Linked DNA regions of Homo sapiens. The protein of the gene in region 1 interacts with the protein of each later gene in a pairwise test. Each region holds a gene or a part of one and is shown in the gene's direction. Other genes may lie near its edges.

The links. Proteins that work in one complex are often made in the same cells at the same time.
Region 2: the proteins of SAPCD2 (region 1) and GPRASP2 interact in binary tests that used the Homo sapiens proteins (3 or more experiments, as listed by UniProt).
Region 3: the proteins of SAPCD2 (region 1) and BFSP2 interact in binary tests that used the Homo sapiens proteins (3 or more experiments, as listed by UniProt).

What each region holds. Positions count from the first base shown.
Region 1 is NC_000009.12:137,066,942-137,076,374, reverse strand, and holds the start of SAPCD2 (suppressor APC domain-containing protein 2), read left to right. Parts: upstream 1-5,817; 5' UTR 5,818-5,914; coding exon 5,915-6,485; intron 6,486-6,581; coding exon of another isoform or gene 6,582-6,671; intron 6,672-9,433. UniProt on the Homo sapiens protein: Plays a role in planar mitotic spindle orientation in retinal progenitor cells (RPCs) and promotes the production of symmetric terminal divisions. Negatively regulates the mitotic apical cortex localization of GPSM2.
Region 2 is NC_000023.11:102,714,614-102,720,013, forward strand, and holds the end of GPRASP2 (G-protein coupled receptor-associated sorting protein 2), read left to right. Parts: 5' UTR 1-256; coding exon 257-2,773; 3' UTR 2,774-3,120; downstream 3,121-5,400. Other genes in the region: ARMCX5-GPRASP2 (G-protein coupled receptor-associated sorting protein 2), read left to right, coding at 257-2,773. UniProt on the Homo sapiens protein: May play a role in regulation of a variety of G-protein coupled receptors.
Region 3 is NC_000003.12:133,472,222-133,477,488, forward strand, and holds the end of BFSP2 (phakinin), read left to right. Parts: intron 1-123; coding exon 124-344; coding exon of another isoform or gene 345-348; intron 349-2,747; coding exon 2,748-2,751; 3' UTR 2,752-2,987; downstream 2,988-5,267.

The sequences.
Region 1 (9,433 bases):
GTTGGGCACAAAACTTTCTCCTAGAAACTATATAGTAAGTCTAAAAGTAATATATGTGACTGCATAAAAGAATTCAAATGGTGGCCAGGTGCAGTGGCTCATGCCTGTAATCCTAACACCTTGGGATACCGAGACAGGATGATCGCTTGAGCCCAGGAGTTCAAGACCAGCTTGGGCAACATGGTGAAACCCCGTCTCCACTAAAAATACAAAAATCAGCCAGGTGTGGTGGCGTGTACCTGTAGTCCCAGCTACTTGGGAGGATGAGGCACGAGAATCACTTGAACCCGGGAGGCGGAGGTTACAGTGAGCCAAGATCGCACCACTGCACTCCAGCCTGGGTGACAGAGCGAAACTCTGTCTCAAAAAAAAAAAAAAAAAAAAAACCGGGCGCAGTGGCTCACTTCTGTAATCCCAGCACTTTGGGAGGCCAAGGCGGGCGGATCACCTGAGGTCTGGGGTTTGAGACCAGCCTGACTAACATGGAGAAACCCTGTCTCTACTAAAAATAGATACAAATATTAAATATAAATATAAATATATAAGCATGGTGTTGCATGCTTATAATCCCAGCTACTCCAGAGGCTGAGGCAGGAGAATCGCTTGAACCTGGGAGGCGGAGGTTGCCATGAGCCAAGATCGCGCCATTGCACTCCAGCCTGGGCAACAAGGGCGAAGCTCTGTCTCAAAAAACAAACAAACAAACCGAAAAAGAAAAACAAATCATGCTGTTACAGGAAAGAGGTTCCAGACCTCAAGAGAGGGTTCTTGGATCTTGCGCAAGAAAGAATTCAGGGCAAGCCCATACAGTAAAGCAAAAGCAAGTTATCAGGAAAGTAAAGGAATAAAGAATGGTTTCTCTACAGACAGAGCAGCCCTGAGGGCTGCTGGTTGCCCATTGTTATGTTTTTTTGGATGACATGCTAAACAAGGAGTGGATAATTCATCCCTCCCCTTTGTAGACCATATAGGGGAACTTCCTGACGTTGCAGTGGCATCTGTAAACCGTCATGGTGCTGGTGGGAGTGTAGCGGCAAGGACAACCAGAGGTCACTGTCGTTGCCATCTTGGTTTTGGTGGGTTTTGGCCGGCTTCTTTATCGGAACCTCTTTTATCAGCAAGGTCTTTGTGACCTGTATCTTGTGCCGACCTCCTGTGTCATCCTGACTTGGAATCCTTTAACCATCCAGAAATGCAGCTCAGTAGGCCCCAGCCTTATTTTACCCAGCTCCCATTCAAGATGGAGTTGCTCTGGTTCACACACCTCTGACAGTGATCTAGGACCCAAAATGAAAACTAACATCTCCCTCATGCTGCCCCGTGGACCCCTCAGGCAGTTGTGTTTCCTTGCAGTTGGGTTCTGCCCCCACCTCCACACACATGCCCTCACTGAGTTTGGGAGGGGGCTTCACCCCTGGGGCAAGGCCCACATGCACTCTTCTGGACCTGCATGGAGTTGCTTTTCGGGCCTGCCTCAGGGTCTCTGCACTTCCTGTTCCTCCCTCCTGGACCGCTTGTCCCCAGAGAAACGTGTGGCTGGGGACGCATTTGGTCAGGCCTCAGCTCCCCAGGCCACGCCCACTCGGTGAGCACCTTCCCATCCTCCGTGCCAGGCTGCCTTTCTGCATTCTTGGCTACCTGACTCCCCTGTGAGAAGCGAACCCCACAAAGGCGGGGAGTTGCTGTTTTTGTTTTGTTTTGTTTTTTGTTTTGAGACCGTGTCTCATTCTGTCGCCCAGGCTGGAGTGCAGTGGTGCAATCTCGGCTCACTGTAACCTCCGCCTCCCGGGTTCAAGTGATTCTCCTGCCTCAGCCTCCTGAGTAGCTGGGATTACAGGCGCCCGCCACCACACACAGCTAATTTTTTGTATTTTTAGTAGCGATGGTTGGCCAGGCTGGTCTTGAACTCCTGACCCCATGATTTGCCCGCCTCGGCCTCCCAAAGTGTTGGGATTACAGGCATGAGCCACCGTGCCCAGCCCAGGCAGGGCATTGTTTAGGCCAGTGGTCTGCCCCCATCACCTCAGGTAAATGCAGCACACAGTAGGCACTCAATCAATGTTTGTTGATTGAACAAACGAGTGTTGAACCCCAGCCCACACCGTGACTGGGCAACAGCAAATGTTCAGGGAGTACCTGCTGCATGAATGAATTAATGAATGGCCTGTTCTGCTCCAGTGGTTTGTGGTGGTTGAACATCGTTTAGGTGAACGTTGGAGTTGGAGGGGAGGCTCGCGGAATCCGGTGAGCAGAGCAGGCTTCCCGCCCCAGGCCAGAGTCCATGGGAACCCTTATCACCCCTGCAGGGCTGGGCAGCAGAGGAGGCACATGTCTCTTGGAGGCAGGTGTCAGGACATGAACTGTTGGCCCTGTAGGTCAGGGTGATTCCAAATCCCACCTCAAGGTGTGGGTTGGGCTGTAATAGAAGATTTGGAAAATCAAGGTTTGTACAGCCAGAGGCACTTGCGGCACCAGAAGGGGAGGAGCGACCCTGCCCAGACCGACAGAGCCTACGGATGGGTGGGAGTGCTGGCAAGGCTGAGGTGGGCAGCAACCTCCTGGACCACCTTGTGGCCAGGCAGTTGTCTTCACAAGAGGCCCAGGGGAGCAAGGCCCTAAGGCTCAGAGGCCAGGAGTGCAGACGGGGAGCCCTGGGAGGCTCAGGGGCTGGGTGGCTGTTGCCAGTTCTTCACTTGGTGCCCACTGCTGGGGATACATCAGGGGACAGAGGGGCCGGTCTTCCTGCCACCTCTGCCCAGAGTGGTCCAGGCTTACACAGTGAGAACACAATTACAGCTAAGATGGGGCCTCCAAAAGTACAGGGACAGCATGGGACCCCCAGGGGTGACACAGCACTAAAACCTGAAGGATTGGGAAACTATCAGGCCAGCCGGAAAGTGGAGTGAAGGAGGAAGTGGTCAGAGCTCAGGACAGGAAGGACACAGGACCACATCTTAGCTCCACGCCCAAAGCCAGGCACAGCCTCCAGTCTTTTTTTTTTTTTTTGAGACGGAGTCTCGCTCTGTCGCCCAGGCTGGAGTGCAGTGGTGCCATCTCGGCTCACTGCAAGCTCCGCCTCCTGGATTCACGCCATTCTCCTGCCTCAGCCTCCCGAATAGATGGGACTACAGACGCCCGCCACCACGCCCGGCTCATTTTTTGTGTGTGTGTGTGTTTTTAGTAGAGACGGGGTTTCACCATGTTAGCCAGGATGGTCTCGATCTCCAGACCTCGTGATCCTCCCGCCTTGGCCTCCCAAAGTGCTGGGATTACAGGCATGAGCCACCGTGCCCAGCCTTTTTTTTTTTTTTTTTTTGAGATGGAGTTTTGCTCTTCTTGACCAGGCTAGAGTGCAATGGCGCGATCTTGGCTCACCGCAACCTCCACCTCCGGGGTTCAAGCTATTCTCCTGCCTCAGCCTCCCGAGTAGCTGGGATTACAGGCATGGGCCACCATGCCCGGCTAATTTCGTATTTTTAGTAGAGACGGGATTTCTCCATGTTGGTCAGGCTGGTCTCGAACTCCTGACCTCAGGTGATCCGCCCGCCTTGGCCTCCCAAAGTGCTGGGATTACAGGCGTGAGCCACCGTGCCCGGCCTCCAGTCTTTTTCATACCTTCCTCCAATACCCAGCCAGGGGCCACAGAGAAGCCCACAGACCAAGGGCCAGCTGGGGCCGCCTCCCCCAAGGCTCTGGATGGTATGAAAAGCCCTTGTTTCATCTGCACGGTGGGTTCAGTTCCATGCGGGGCCATGGCTGGCCTGGCCTGGACACTGCTGGCCACGCTGTCCTGAGCTGCAGCAGCCTTGCTCACTGCTGGCCACCGACTCCACATCCACACTGGCCTCCCCTGCCATACCACTGAGCTGTTCCCAGCCCTTCCCCATCCCTTAGGCCTCAGCCTGGCTTGGTGCCCACTCAAGGATGGTGTTTCCCATATGATTTCACTGGATACGGCTCCCCAGTGCCATTCACAGAGCACCCACTGTGGGCCAGGCCAATGCCAGGCCTAGAAGGAGCCCTGTCCTGCTTGCAAATAGCCAGGGCCCCCTGGGCCAGGAGAAAGCTGTCCCCTGTGTTTTATCTAACTAGGCTTCAGGGGGAAGGGGACTGGGGCCAGAGCAGAGTTCTGAAGGATGTAGTGCGGTCAGCCTGGAGCAGAGGGGAAGGGCCTTCCTGGTAGAAGAGCCACCAGGCACAGGGGCCTGGAAGTGAGGGAGTGCAGGGACCCCAGGCCTGGCACTGGCGGTGAGGGGTGTGCTGGAAGCAGGGTAGGTGTGGGGATGGGGGGGCGGGGGCTTGCGTGTTGTGCTGGTTTGTTTTGTTTTGTTTTGTTTTTGAGACAAGATCTCGCTCTGTCACCCAGGATGGAGAGCAGTGGCTCAATCACAGCTCACTGCAGCCTCAACCTCTTGGGTTCAAGGGATCCTCCCACCTCAGCCTCCCAAATACCTGGGACCACAGGCATGCACCACCACGCCTGGCTAATTTTTTAAACTTTTTGTAGAAATAGGGTTGCCTTATGTTGCCCAGGCTGGTCTTGAACTCCCCAGCTCAAGTGATCCTCCCGCCTCGGCCTCGTGCTGGGTTTTTGAGCAGACCAGCCATTAAAGGGGAAGCTGGCTTACAGGACCAAGCTCTGATGGGCTGCTCCAGGCTCAGAGCTTCTTATGTCCTTCCAGCATTCCCTACGATGAAGGAGTCCCACTTAGAGTGAGTGACCCAGAAGAGAAGTGGACCCAGGATACTCCCTGGCCTGGGAAGATGCCTCTACAGCTTGAGACACAGGCACCAGTGGCTCAGGCCTGAGGACAGAGACCCAGGTAGGTATGCCAGCTGAGGCCTGCCCAGGAGGGAGGGTGGGAGACCCGCAGAGGGCCAAGGCAAGTCTCGGATTGGGGGCCTGTCTGGGGAGGGTGTTTGCACCCTGAACACCTCCCTGGAACCTAGAGGGTACTACTGGCCAGCCCTGAGATGGGCTCCCAGGGCTAGAACCCAGGCTAAGGCCTGGTCTCACCTCCCATGTGGACAGACCAAATGAAGACAGAGTGACCAGATCCCAGCTGGAAACACAGCAGAGGCAGGGGGACAGGGCTGCGGGAGCCAGGAGAGCAGCTGGAGGAGGTGTCCAGCCAGGGGAAGGAGGAGAGGAGAGCAAGAGGCAGAGGGAGCTGGTCACTAGATGGGGATCTGGGGACACAGGAGAAAGTGGCTTTGTTCTGCAGCAGGCAGGCCAGGCCAGACTGTCCCGAGGGACCAGAGGAGGAGCCAGCAGCAGTGGGGACAGAAAGGCCTCTGTGAGTGGGAAGCGCCCAGCTGGCTGGAGCCTACGATCCTCTTGGGGCCCTCCTGGTGGAAGAGAAGGGGGCCGCAGGGTCACCTGTGCTTGCGGCCAGGGAACTAGAGGGGAAAAGTGGGATCTTTGGAGGGGGTGCCCCCCCCCATTCTTACCCCACGAGGCTACCTGGAGACAGGTTTTTTTGTAGGGTGCCAGGCCCCGCCCCTTGGAGAGGTGGCCGGGGCAGCCAGCCACAGCTGGATCCGAGAAAGCGCCTGGCCGCGGCAGGAGGTTTGGTGGGGCTGGGGCGGGGCAGAAAGGAAGGTCTGCGAGGCCAGAGTGGAGCAGGAGCTGGGGGATCCGGTTCCGCCTGCCCAGGGCCTCCGCGCGCCTCCCAGGGCCACTCGGCAAGAAAAAAAAAAAAAAAATCAAACCTCCTCTCAGCCTATCAGAGAGCAGATGGGACGGGCTCGGCCAATGGCCGCGGCGCATGTTAATGAGGGCTGACGCCGCGAGGAGGGCCCCATTCAAAAGTAGTCGCTATTGTCGCCGTGGGCTGAGCTCGCCGGGCCGGCCCCTCCGTGGGGCCGCGCTGGGACGCACGCGGGTGGACGAGGGGACCGATCCCGGGCGCCCATGGCCGGGGCCGCCATGGCCGAGCGGGGCCGCGTGCCTCCCCCCGCACCCGCGCCCAGCACGGAGGGGCTGCCGCGCGCCTTCCTGCAGAGCCTGCGCACCCTGTTCGACATCCTGGACGACCGGCGGCGCGGCTGCGTGCACCTGCGCGAGATCGAGTCCCGCTGGCAGGGCACCGACGCGCGGGAGCTGCCCCGCGGGGTGCTGGAGGGCTTGCGCCAGGTGGCCCCGGCCAGCGGCTACCTGACCTTCGAGCGCTTCGTGGCCGGCCTGCGCACCTCCCTGCTGAGCGCCGACGGCGGCCCCCGGGACCCCACGCGCGCCCCGGCCCGGCCCGGGGATCAGCCGCCGCCGCCGCCGCAGCGCCTGGTGTTCGCTCCGGCCGACGAGCCGCGGACGGTCCTGGAGAGGAAGCCCCTGCCCCTGGGCGTGCGCGCCCCTCTGGCCGGTCCCAGCGCCGCCGCCCGCAGCCCGGAGCAGCTGTGCGCCCCGGCTGAGGCGGCGCCCTGCCCCGCGGAGCCCGAGCGGTCCCAGAGCGCGGCGCTGGAACCGAGCTCCAGCGCGGACGCAGGTGAGTTCCGGACGGCCCCCGGGCACCCTCGTAGCTCTCCCGGGCCCGGGCCAGAAACCGCAGTCCCACAGCTGCTGCCCGTGCATTTCCCACAAGGGACGGGACCGGGGAGCGGCTCTTCGTGGACTCCGGATCCTGGAGGGCGCCTCGGCGGGTCTGGAGGGAAAGGGCTTCATGCTTGTCGCGGTGAGCCCAGGGGCTTGCTTAGGGAGGCAAGCCAGACCCTCTCCTGCCACAGCATAAGGCCACCAGGGCCGGGGGGTGGCAGGTGACTCAGAAAACCCACCGGGAGCCCAACCTGTACCAAGCCTGAGCTTGGGCTCTCCATCTCCAATACCCTTTCCGCACCTGGGGACACCTGGGCCCTCAGCCTCCTGTCTGTGGCTGCTCAGGCAGAAGTGCTTCCTTCTCAAAGAAAGGGTCCCCCTTCTCAGTGTGACAGCTTAGCCAGGGGGGCTGGGCCCACTGACCCCACTGAGGCCTAGGCAGGCGGGGGCTGCTGCTGGTGGCCCAAGAGGACCTGGCCCTGTTGCCAAGATGGGCAGGGGCGTGGGTGGATCTCCTGCACCCCAGTGGGGCTGTACTATGGCAGATGCCATGGAGGGACATAGGCCGTAGTCCCTGGGGATGGCTGGCACACTCCTCTCCTGCCTTCCGGTCCAGTTGGCAGTGATGGGAGATTGCTGAATGGTCCCCTGTCTCCCCCAACCCAGTGCCTGCCTTGGGAACAGGACCTGTATTATGGCTGGGGTTGGGGGGCCAAGCTCCCAGAGGGGCCCCAGGCCCCACAGCCCATTCGGCCTGTGCACCCGTTCTGCCAGGGGAGGCCTGCCCACCGGTGGCTCCTGCCGGTCCCTGTGCTGCCTGCTGCTCTGCCACCCTCCCTGTACTGCTCCCCCACCTCAGCCATATTCTCCAGCCCTACAGCTGGTGTTTGGAGCCACGGCGGCCCTGGCCTCCCTGGTGATCTGATCCAGCAGCCACACCAGGCTGGGGGACCCCTAGTTCTATGGTGAGGGAACCTTCAGAGGGTATCTGGCTCCAAATGCAGGGTCAGCGTCATCCATGTGGCCATGCAGTTTGAAATCAGCCATGGGATTGCACGCTGTGGCCGGGCCTGGGGTTTGGAGGCCTAAGCCTGTGGTCCACCCCTGCTCTGCTCTGATGCCCCATGCGGCACTGGCTCACGTACCACATCTCCCTGAAGGCCACATGGCTAGGGCTGTAGCTGTCACCCTCTCACAGGCAAACGGAGGGCCAGACAAATGGCGTGACATATTTGATTGACACAGCTGGCTTTTGGGGTGTCAAATCTGGAGCTCTGAGGTCACCCCAACTCCCAGAAAGCCTGCCAACACACACAGCCTTCCAAGCCCCCAGCCCAGATGTTCAGGGCCTCTTTCCTTGTTCCCACCTGGGACTGCGTGTTTGCTCCAGGCTGGCTGTGGCCCTGGAGGTGTGGCCTGCTGGCTCAGGGCCCTGGAGGGGCAGAGCCACCACCCCCACCTAGAGGCCATCTAGCTCATCACCCAGCACGCTGCTATCTGGGGACCCAGGAGCTGCTCTATGGACTCAACTGTACAGACCGGGCCCAGGTGTCCTGGGACTTCCTCTATGGCCTCCCTCTGTCTGTACCCTCTCTGCTCCCACCTCCTGAAGGGCTGTGTGCTCTTCCACTGTCTTGCCCCAGAGCTGCCAGCCGCTCAGCACCGCAGGCTGGAGTGCGAATTCGGGCCTGCCTGGAGCCAGGCTCTCTGCCGTGCCTACCTGGGCCCAATTCTTGCATCACTCCCTGACTCCTGTGGCCAGGTGCCAGGGGCATGGCCTCTAAGGATGTGCCTGGTGCTGGGGCTACAGCTGGAGGCCGAAGGAGGATGCCTTCCTCCACACCTGTACCCACTTCTGTAGCCTGGGGAGGTGCACCTACTCCCTCACCAGGAAGCTGGGCCGGAGTGGCACCAACGCGATACTCTTGGCTGCCCCCAGGGGGAGCCCTCAAACAAACTTCAGAGCAGGGGTCTGTGAGCACCAGGACGTGCCTGACTTGTCAGTTGGGTGCACCGCCTGGCGTATCACACACGCGGGACTTTTTTTTTTTTTTTTTTTTTTTTTTTTGAGATGGAGTCTTGCTCTGTCGCCCAGGCTGGAGTGCAGTGGCGCGAATCTCAGCTCACTGCAACCTCCGCCTCCTGGGTTCAAGCGATCCTCCTGCTTCAGCCTCCCGAGTAGCTGGGATTACAGGTGCATGCCACCACGCCCTGCTAATTTTTGTATTTTTAGTAGAGACAGGGTTTCACCATGTTGGCTAGGCTGGTCTTGAACTCCTGACCTCAACTGATCCCCCCCCGCCCCAGCTTCCCAAAGTGCTGGGATTACAGGTGTGAGCCACCGTGCCCGGCAAGGGATCTTTTTTTTTTTTGAGACAAAGTTTTGCTGTGTTGCCCAGCCTGGAGTGCAGTGGCGCAATCTGGGCTCAGTGGAACCTCTGCCTCCCAGGCTCAAGCAATCCTCCTGCCTCAGGCTCCTGAGTAGCCGGGACCACAGGTGCATGCCACTGCACCAGGCTAATTTTTGTGTTTCTAATAGAAATGGGGTATTGCCGGCCGGGCACAGTGGCTCACGCCTGTAATTCCAGCACTTTGGGAGGCTGAGGTGGGTGGATCACCTGAGGTCAGGAGTTCAGGACCAGCCTGGTCAACATGGTGAAACCTCATCTCTACTAAAAAATACAAAAAGTAGCTGGGCATGGTAGTGGGTGTCTGTAATCCCAGCTACTCGGGAGGCTGAGACCGGAGAATCACTTGAACCTGGGAGGCGGAGGTTGCAGTGAGCCAAGATCATACCATTGCACTCCAGCCTGGGCAACAGGAACAAAACAACGTCTCAAGAAAAAAAGGAAGAAATGGGGTTTTGCCATGTTGCCCAGGCTGGTCTCAAACTCCTGAGCT
Region 2 (5,400 bases), on another chromosome or scaffold:
GAAATATCTGTCTTCCTTTAGCTTGGTTGTACCTGTTCTCACTCTATCTGTATTATTGAATTATTGACTGAGACTGTGTTTGGGAAGGAGGCTGAGTGACTACTGGACTGGATATTGACTCTAACTCTTATTCCCAAGCTTATATCCTTAATCACCTAAAGATCAGAGTGTGAAGAAACAAACCTGTGACAGATCTGTGGTTGAGGTTTAGACTACGGGAGGAGTATATTACCTGACTTTCTTTGTAACTTGTACCATGACTGGGGCAGAGATTGAGCCTAGTGCCCAGGCCAAGCCTGAAAAGAAGGCTGGGGAAGAGGTTATCGCTGGGCCTGAGAGAGAGAATGATGTCCCTCTGGTGGTCAGACCCAAGGTTAGGACCCAGGCAACTACTGGGGCAAGGCCCAAAACTGAGACCAAGTCTGTGCCTGCGGCAAGGCCCAAAACTGAGGCCCAAGCAATGTCTGGGGCAAGGCCCAAAACTGAGGTCCAAGTAATGGGTGGTGCAAGACCCAAAACGGAGGCTCAAGGAATCACAGGGGCCAGGCCCAAAACCGATGCCAGGGCAGTAGGTGGCGCTCGTTCTAAAACTGATGCCAAGGCAATCCCTGGAGCAAGGCCCAAGGATGAGGCCCAGGCATGGGCCCAGAGTGAATTTGGGACTGAAGCAGTGTCACAGGCAGAAGGAGTGTCCCAGACTAATGCCGTTGCTTGGCCACTGGCCACTGCTGAGTCTGGATCAGTTACTAAATCTAAGGGCCTGTCTATGGATAGAGAACTAGTCAATGTGGATGCTGAAACCTTTCCTGGCACCCAGGGTCAGAAAGGAATCCAGCCCTGGTTTGGACCAGGGGAGGAGACTAATATGGGGTCTTGGTGCTATTCCAGGCCCAGGGCCAGAGAGGAGGCCTCTAATGAGTCTGGGTTCTGGTCAGCAGATGAGACCTCTACAGCGTCTTCTTTCTGGACTGGAGAAGAGACAAGTGTCAGATCATGGCCCAGGGAAGAGTCCAATACCAGGTCCAGGCACAGGGCTAAACATCAGACTAATCCCAGGTCCAGGCCCAGATCCAAGCAAGAAGCCTATGTTGATTCCTGGTCTGGATCTGAGGATGAGGCCAGCAACCCATTCTCCTTCTGGGTTGGAGAAAATACCAATAACTTGTTCAGGCCCAGAGTCAGGGAGGAGGCAAATATCAGGTCCAAGCTCAGGACAAATAGAGAAGATTGTTTTGAATCTGAGTCTGAAGATGAGTTCTATAAGCAGTCCTGGGTTTTGCCTGGAGAAGAGGCCAATAGTAGATTCAGGCACAGAGACAAAGAAGATCCTAATACTGCCTTGAAACTCAGGGCCCAGAAAGATGTTGACAGTGATAGGGTCAAACAAGAACCCAGGTTTGAGGAGGAAGTCATTATTGGGTCCTGGTTCTGGGCAGAAAAAGAGGCCAGTTTGGAGGGTGGAGCTTCAGCAATCTGTGAATCTGAGCCAGGAACTGAGGAGGGGGCCATTGGCGGATCCGCGTACTGGGCTGAGGAAAAGTCCAGTTTGGGGGCTGTGGCCAGAGAAGAGGCCAAGCCGGAGTCTGAAGAAGAGGCCATATTTGGGTCCTGGTTCTGGGACAGAGATGAGGCCTGCTTTGACCTAAATCCCTGTCCTGTGTACAAGGTCAGTGATAGGTTCAGAGATGCAGCTGAGGAGCTTAATGCATCCTCCAGGCCCCAAACCTGGGACGAGGTCACTGTTGAATTCAAACCTGGTCTTTTTCATGGGGTTGGCTTCCGATCCACAAGCCCCTTTGGAATTCCCGAAGAGGCTTCTGAAATGCTTGAGGCAAAGCCCAAGAACCTGGAACTTAGCCCAGAAGGAGAAGAGCAGGAATCTTTGCTTCAGCCTGATCAGCCTAGTCCTGAGTTCACATTTCAGTATGATCCTTCCTACCGGTCAGTCCGGGAAATTCGAGAGCATCTTAGGGCCAGGGAGAGTGCAGAGTCTGAGAGTTGGTCCTGCAGCTGCATACAATGTGAGCTGAAAATTGGTTCTGAAGAGTTTGAAGAATTCCTTTTATTAATGGACAAAATTCGGGATCCTTTTATTCATGAAATATCTAAAATTGCAATGGGTATGAGAAGTGCTTCTCAATTTACCCGAGATTTCATTCGAGATTCAGGTGTTGTCTCACTTATTGAAACCTTGCTTAATTATCCATCCTCTAGAGTTAGGACAAGTTTTTTGGAAAATATGATTCACATGGCTCCACCTTATCCAAATCTAAACATGATTGAGACATTCATATGTCAAGTGTGTGAGGAAACCCTTGCACATAGTGTGGATTCCCTTGAGCAGCTGACTGGAATAAGGATGCTTAGACACCTCACTATGACTATTGACTATCACACACTGATTGCCAACTATATGTCCGGGTTTCTCTCCTTATTAACCACAGCCAATGCGAGAACGAAGTTTCACGTTCTGAAAATGCTATTGAATTTGTCTGAAAATCCTGCTGTGGCAAAAAAACTATTCAGTGCCAAAGCTCTTTCAATATTTGTGGGTCTCTTTAACATAGAAGAGACAAATGATAATATTCAAATTGTTATTAAAATGTTTCAGAATATCAGTAACATTATAAAAAGTGGAAAGATGTCCTTAATTGATGATGATTTCAGTCTTGAGCCGCTTATTTCTGCATTTCGTGAATTTGAGGAGTTAGCTAAGCAACTACAAGCCCAAATAGACAACCAAAATGATCCTGAGGTGGGACAACAAAGTTAATATGATTAACCACCTGCCGCTGATCAGCCTTATGTTCCCAAAGAGCCCTGAGTAGTGCTTTGGTGTTCACAGTCTGTTTTTTTGTTGTAACTTATATTTTTTAATGCTGATGTTAACTTTGTCAAACTCTTGTTTTGAGCTGGATCATTTTGTGGATGCCAAATGAATATCAAAACTGAAAACACATTTGTTGATATTTGTCTTGCTGTCCAGATTGCGGTATTTTTCAGTATTAAGTTTTCAATGAACTGTGTCACCTAAGTAAGCTACCCTGCTATTCGTTGTTTAAATATATGGTTCTCTATTTGAGTCTGTGTTTTCAATAAAGTTCTATGTTAAAATTGGCATAAGTGACCCTTCTTCAGTTTAAGAACCATGTACAGATAAATCGTGTGCACTTACAAACATAGGTAATTATTAGTATGACAAACATGCGCTTATTAGAAAATTCTGTTCTTGAGTTAAGAAGGGAGAGATTATTGTGGGCCCTGATACTTGAGGAATGTTTCCGAGAAGAGGGACCCACTTAAATTGGTCAGGATAGAACAAATTGGTCAGGATAGGAGAGCAAGACAACTTGCCCGCCTGCTTGCCCAATTATGAGCCTTCCCAACAAGCAACCTAAAATTAATACTTCTTATAGGACCCATTTAAATTACCATCTTAGCCCTGGGATTTGCCTAAGGGTAGGATAAGACAAATCATTAGGTTGCTCTTGGAAGTGGGCAGTGGTGGTTTGAAGAAAAGTGTGTAATTGAATAATCTGTTCTAGTAGCATGGATGAACCCAGTCTGCTTGAAACAAGTAAAAGGAGTTTGATGAGAAATGCAGTTAGAAAGTTGGGAAGAGGCCAATTTGGGGAACAGAATAAGCCAAATCTGCATATTTAACAATTCAAAGTACAGGTGTTACTTCAATGCCACCTAAAGGCTGAAAGAGTAGGATAGCACAATTAAATGGAGTGGGGAATATGATTTCCTTTATATTCCTAGACAAAGGAAAGTGTTAAGGAAATACCATGCAGCCGTTGGAATGATTATGTATGGATAGGTTTATTGACACAAAAGGACATTAATTATTTTATATTTGGTGAAACAGAGAATGTGACATCATGTATGGAAAATTAGATTCCATTTTTAAAACATCTGTAAATGTACACAATTCCTATGCAATTTCAATATGAATTTCTAAACACAGTCTGGAATAAAATATATACCTTGTTAAAAAATGCTTAGAGACAGGCGTTGGGGAGATACAAACATTAATAAGACAAATTAAAAAATTAATATGCTTACATTTTGTGCCTTGAGTTATAGATGAGCATGCCGGAAAGGACAGAATTATATAAATGAATAAACTATAAGTGTTAAAAAATGATTAGAGATAATATCATTTAGAAAAGTTGTAAATGAATGAGCTATCAGAAAGACTAGCTTTTTATAAAACGTTTTCAAGATAAAAATTAAAATTGGCCAGGCACAGTGGCTCACACCTGTAATCCCAGCCCTTTGGGAGGCCGAAGCGGAAGGATTGCTTGAGCTCAAGAGTTCAAGGCCAGCCTGGGCAACATATTGATGCCTTGTCTCTACTAAAAATAAAAAAAATTAGCCCAGCATGGTGGCACGCACTTGTCCTAGCTACTCAGGAGGCTGAGGTAGGAGAATCACTTGAGCCTAGGAAGTTGAGGCTGCAGTCAGTCATAGTCACACCACTGCACTCCAGCATGGGTGATGTGAGTGAGACCTTGTCTCAAAAAAAATAAAATAAAATAAAATAATCAAGGGTGGGCCAGGCGCGGTGGCTCACGCTTGTAATCCCAGCACTTTGGGAGGCTGAGGTGGGTGGATCACTTGAGGTCAGGAGTTCGAGACCAGCCTGGCCAACATAGCGAAATGCTGTCTCTAGTAAAAATACAAAAACTTAGCCAGGCATGGTGGTGTGCGCCTGTAATCCCAGCTACTGGGGAGGCTGAGGCAGGAGAGTCGCTTGAGCCTGGGGGGCAGAAGTTGCAGTCAGCTGAGGTCGCACCACTGCACTACAGCCTGGGTGACAGAGCAGAACTCCGTCTCAAAAAAAAAAAAAATTACCAAGGGTGTTAAGTTTAATATTAGTCTGTTCATGGTACAAAAATGGCACCTTTTTCACATAATTATTACCGTAAAAAACATAACATTTCCTTTTGAGGTGACAACAAAGTTCTGGAGCTAGATAGTGGTGATGGTTGTACAACATTGATAATGTACTGGGTTGTATACTTTAAAATGGTTAAAATGTTAAATTTTATGTTATGTGTATTTTGCCACGATAATTTAAAAAATGACCACACAATACCTTCAGTCAGGAGAATTGGAAGACAGGGCTATATGTTGGTTTGGAGAGGAAATTCAGACGTACGAGAAATATCCAATGTTTTATTATTTTTAGACATAACATTTATTTGTCTGAGAATGTTCTAAATTTTCAAAGGTAAAATTACAATTCATGTAAATGTAAAAAGAATATGTGAAAGATTTTTCAACACAATCAACAACTGCTAGGATTAAGAAAACAGTTGAAGGGTATATGTGTATATACAATATACACAATATGAAGATATAAACAAAACATTGAATTTCATAAACACATAG
Region 3 (5,267 bases), on another chromosome or scaffold:
AGGTCCCTGCCACGAGGGGAATAGTCCAGGCTACCACCAGCCCCTGCCACTGCTCTGCACACCTCCCTCTTCAAGGGCCCGGCCTGTTGTCCTCGGGTTTGGACCGGGTTCGCTCTTTTGTAGAAACGAGGCCTGGAGAACACCTTGCACGATGCCAAGCACTGGCATGACATGGAGCTCCAGAACCTGGGCGCTGTGGTCGGCCGGCTGGAGGCGGAGCTCAGGGAAATCCGAGCGGAGGCGGAGCAGCAGCAACAGGAGCGCGCGCATCTGCTGGCCCGCAAGTGCCAGCTGCAGAAGGACGTGGCGTCCTACCACGCCCTGCTGGACAGGGAGGAGAGCGGGTAAGCCTCGCTTCCGCGTCAATTATCCAAGAGATGCATATTCATGGCTTTAAAAATAATTATTTTCCAAACACTGTAGAAGTATTTAAGAAGAAATCACCCCAGACTTCCTCTCACATAGGCACCCATTCCCACAGCCTAGCTGTGTCCTTCCTTTCCTATTCACATACAAATAATATATATAATATATTCACATACTAATACATTTTCTATATGTATGCATATTTATGTATGTATATATACACACATACATTCACATACATGTGTATACCTAGGACGTACATAATAGCTGTTAGGAATGTTTCAGTTGCTTGTAATAGAACCTAATTAATGAGGCTATAAACCAGTGCTCCTGAAACTAATGTGCACTCAAAACCCTGCGCATCTTTTTTTTTTTTTTGGATACAGGGTCTCGTCTCGGTATGTTGCCCAGGCTGGTCTCGACTCAAACCCCTGGGCTCAAGTGATCCTCTCACCTAAGCCTCCAGAATAGCTGGGGTTACAGGTGTGAGCCGTGACACCCCAGCTGGGCATCTTTTTTAAATGCAGATTCTGCTTCAGTACGTCTGGGGTGGGGTCTGAGAGTCTTCCTTTCTAACAAGCTCCCAAGTGATGACTATACTGCTGCTCCACAGACTACACTCTGAGTAGCAAAGATGTGTAAATCATTTATTTAAGAGTCCCAGAAACAGGTGATCTAGGCTGCTCAAAGATTTCATTAAGGACTCAAGCTCTTTTCATCTTTCTAACATACCATGACAACATTGGCTTTTTGTCTTTATCTTTGTCACCCCATGGTTACCATATGCCAGCCACAGATCCAAACATCACATCCTCATTCCTGGCCGGAAGTGGGAGAGAAGAGGCAGCAGCAAAAAAAAAAAAAAAAAAAAAGGCTTTTTCTTTTTTTTTATTGATCATTCTTGGGTGTTTCTCGCAGAGGGGGATTTGGCAGGGTCATAGGACAATAGTGGAGGGAAGGTCAGCAGATAAACAAGTGAACAAAGGTCTCTGGTTTTCCTAGGCAGAGGACCCTGCGGCCTTCCGCAGTGTTTGTGTCCCTGGGTACTTGAGATTAGGGAGTGGTGATGACTCTTAACGAGCATGCTGCCTTCAAGCATCTGTTTAACAAAGCACATCTTGCACCGCCCTTAATCCATTTAACCCTGAGTGGACACAGCACATGTTTCAGAGAGCACAGGGTTGGGGGTAAGGTCACAGGTCAACAGGATCCCAAGGCAGAAGAATTTTTCTTAGTACAGAACAAAATGAAAAGTCAAAAGGCTTTTTCTTGAATGATCCTCTCCTTTAATCAGTGAAGGAAAGACATTTTGAGGCTTGCAGTGGACTGTCCCTTATATCTCATTGGCCAGAACCTGCTTATACTGGCCATACCCATCTGCAAGGGAGGCTAAGAAAGCAACTCTTTAGCTTTTCCAGACTCCATAGTGGAGGCAGGCAAGGGGTTGGGACTAGGAGTTGAGTTAGTCTGCCATAATTACACACACACACTTGCACTCACTCTTTTTTTAATAGATAAGGATTCCAGAGGCATATACATCAGCCTTGGGCCTTAGCTTCCTTGCCAACTCTTTCCAGAAACCCAGGCCCTTATTTTGTATCATAGTTCTATGCCTTCTTATTTCCCTCCAAGACTCCTTGTCTGACATATGTTGAATAAGGAATAGAGACAGCTTAGTGATTGTATCATCCAACCCCTCCTGATTCAAGAGAGAACACAAAGACCCAGAATGGAAAAAGATTTGCGCATGATCACACAGGAGGCGGAGACAGCACTGGGATGGGAGCCCAGGTCTCCTGCTCTCTCCAACTGTGTAACCTCTCTTTATTCAGAAGGCGGGAGAGCCTCAAGGAAGCGACCTAACCACGCCCTGCTTTCAAATGGAAAATATGTCATCCAGCTCCTCTCCAACTGTCTTTTATTGAATTGATTTTTGTTGATTATAAAAGCCAGATGTTCCTAACAAAGTATTTTTTTTTCAGATGCCTATGAGCATCTGTATAAACACACAAAGTCAATTTAAACAAACAGCAAGAGCAGTGAGTTAGGCCGAGTTACTTCTTAAGAATCTATGTGCTACGTTCATTTAGTGAGTGCCAAGGCAGACCTGACTCTTGATTATTTTTGTTTATCCTCCAAACCCTGCCAAGACAACCTCATGATCCGTGTTTTAGAGACAGGAAACAAAGCCTCAGAGAGCTTAAGTCATGGCCCAAGGTCTCACAGCAAATAACCATGGAGTAATTATTTAAAACCCAAAACTATCTTGTTCCAAAGGCCAGATTCTTTCATGAGATGGCCCCCTTTCTCGTAATCCTATTGTGATAGAATGACCGATTTTCCTCACCCATTGCTTCTGACTCCTATGTGTTTCCTTTCAGCTGATGGAGAAACTTCCTCTTTTTCATGAAGAAAACACCCTTCCTCAACAGCTGACCCAAGAAGTTGCTTGAGGAGCTTTCTCCTGAGCTCCAGTCCCTGCTGGATTCCCTGGTTAATTCAGCTTGAGCTGAAAAGCTTCCTGGAAGTGGAGAGGATCCTTCTGCTTTAATCTGAGTAGTCTGTAGCTTGAGCAATCTCCCTTGTCCTCCTTCAAATAAATGCTTTGTGCGCAGCGTCCAGTTTGCCCACCTTGTTCAACTCACTATAGGGTCGAGATGGATATCACTTTGTCTGTCTGGCCTTTGCTCACAGAGCTATGCTTGAAGGCTTCTGGAAGGATTCCCTTGAGTGTGACGCCATCTGCCTCCCTAGGGTCACCTGCTCTTGGGTTTGTCAACATAAAAGTGCTGCGGAGGCAAAAGCAGTGCTCATGGCATGCAGGATTGACGCAGTCTGGGACAAAAAACAACACTCTTGCTCGAGAGGGGATTAGTGTGGTGCTTTATCACATGTTTCATAATTACAGGCATCGTGGAGTATTCAGACCTCTTTAATATACTCTGCATGCATATTCATGTGCAGACACACACATTTCACTTGCTATTGGCAGAGCATCTCTCAATCAGTTAAAAGGGAACTTCAATCTAAGCCCAATCTAAACCCATTCAATCTAAGTGGGGGATTAATTACACTGTGGTTGCTCACCCCACTTACAGCCTCAGAATTTTCTTCCAGGGTCCTTTCTCCAGTTCTCTCAGGGCCTAAGCCAGCCAAATATAGTTCATGCATCTGCCACCTACCCAGGCAAGACTCTCTTGCCTTCTGATTAAAATTGAAACCACCACCTGTGTCCTACCACAGGTTCTCAGTGTCTCTAAAACTGAAAGGAAAAAAAAAAAAAAAAAAAGCCCAACTTTAATTTTGTCATTCCTCCCTCAAACTTCTGTTGGTCTACCTATCACACAGAATTACAGACCAAAATATCCAAGCTGAGTCTTTGTGTTTGTGAGCTGCTAATCCAGACAGGGGGATGTATCCAACACTGGTACATTTGAAAACCCCCATACCCGAGGGTCCAAATAACCAAGGCCCACACAAAGAAAAGAACATTTATTTATCCTTAAGGATTGCTTATAAGAGAAGCAAGGTGGCCAGGCGCGGTGGCTCATGCCTGTAATCCCAGCACTTTGGGAGGCCAAGGTGGGCAGATCACAAGGTCAGGAGTTCGAGACCAGCCTGGCGAATATGGTGAAACCCCGTCTCTACTAAAAATACAGACGTTAGCCAGGCTTGGTGGCGGGCGCCTGTAGTCCCAGCTACTCAGGGGGCTGAGGCAGAAGAATCGTTTGAACCCAGGAGGCGGAGGTTGCAGTGAGCCGAGATTGTGCCACTGCACTCCAGCCTGGGCAACAGAGCAAGACTATCACACAAAAAAAATAAATAAATAAAAGGCAAGATATATGGTATCCTGGTTGGAATTGCTACAACTGGTTTTCCTTTTTGGCCTGCAAGAGCAAAGGAATTGTATTAAAGATCACATGAGCAGAACCACTATTTACAATGTGCATAGCCCCTTGACATAGGTCAGTTTGTTGTTTGAGACATGGAAATAGGCAAGACACCCTAAAACTACATTTTAGCAAAGTATCCATCTCCATAGCTGCACACTATGGGGCTGCCCATAATTGAACCGCCTGGGTACAAGAGTCTTGCCAGAAAACAAAGTGGGTGGCTGGCCTTGCTATGTTGGATGCACAAGACACTGACGTCTGTTTCTTTTCTGTCTTTCTTGTTACTATTAATTTTTGGTCCCTCAGGCAAGACCTAAATTCCTAACCTAAATGTAGCTGGAGGCTTCAAAGGTGACAGTCCCCAAAAGGTCAGCCATCAAAAGGAGGTACTTCTATGACCGAATGGCCATGCAGTTTTTAGAACCTGGAAGTCGTTTCAGCCACTGGAAAGACGGGAGAATGTATCTGCGCATCCTCCTGAGTTTCCACCAGACAGCATGCTGTGCAGGGCTGCACACACTTGGTCTCCTCCGCACCATCATCTCAAAGAGCAGCTGCCGTAAATCATTCAGTTAATCACCCTTTGGCAGGGAGAGCCGTGGCAGACTGGTGCTTCCAGTTCCCAGCACAGGCTCTTGCTGTTTCTAATGAGGCTTCATTAACAGGTATGAGAAGGCACTGCTGGCCCCCCAACTCTGCCAGGGCCTCGTTTAAATCAGGCTTCCTCTCACAACATCCCAGTACAATTACGCTTTGGCAGTGGTTCACTGACAGGTGGCAGGGGAGGCTGCTGCTTGTATTGGTGTCAAGGACAGAGCATTTGTTCTGGAGCAGACCAGAGCAGGGCTCCCAATGGACACCTCCTGAAACACAACCGAGCTCTATTTCCACACCAGGCAACTCCACTGGCCTCTGGCCTAGCTTCTGAAGGGCTGTGTGAACTCCCAATGGGATTGCTAGAGCATCCATGGCTTTCAGATTCAACATTCTTTTATATCAAGATCCTTA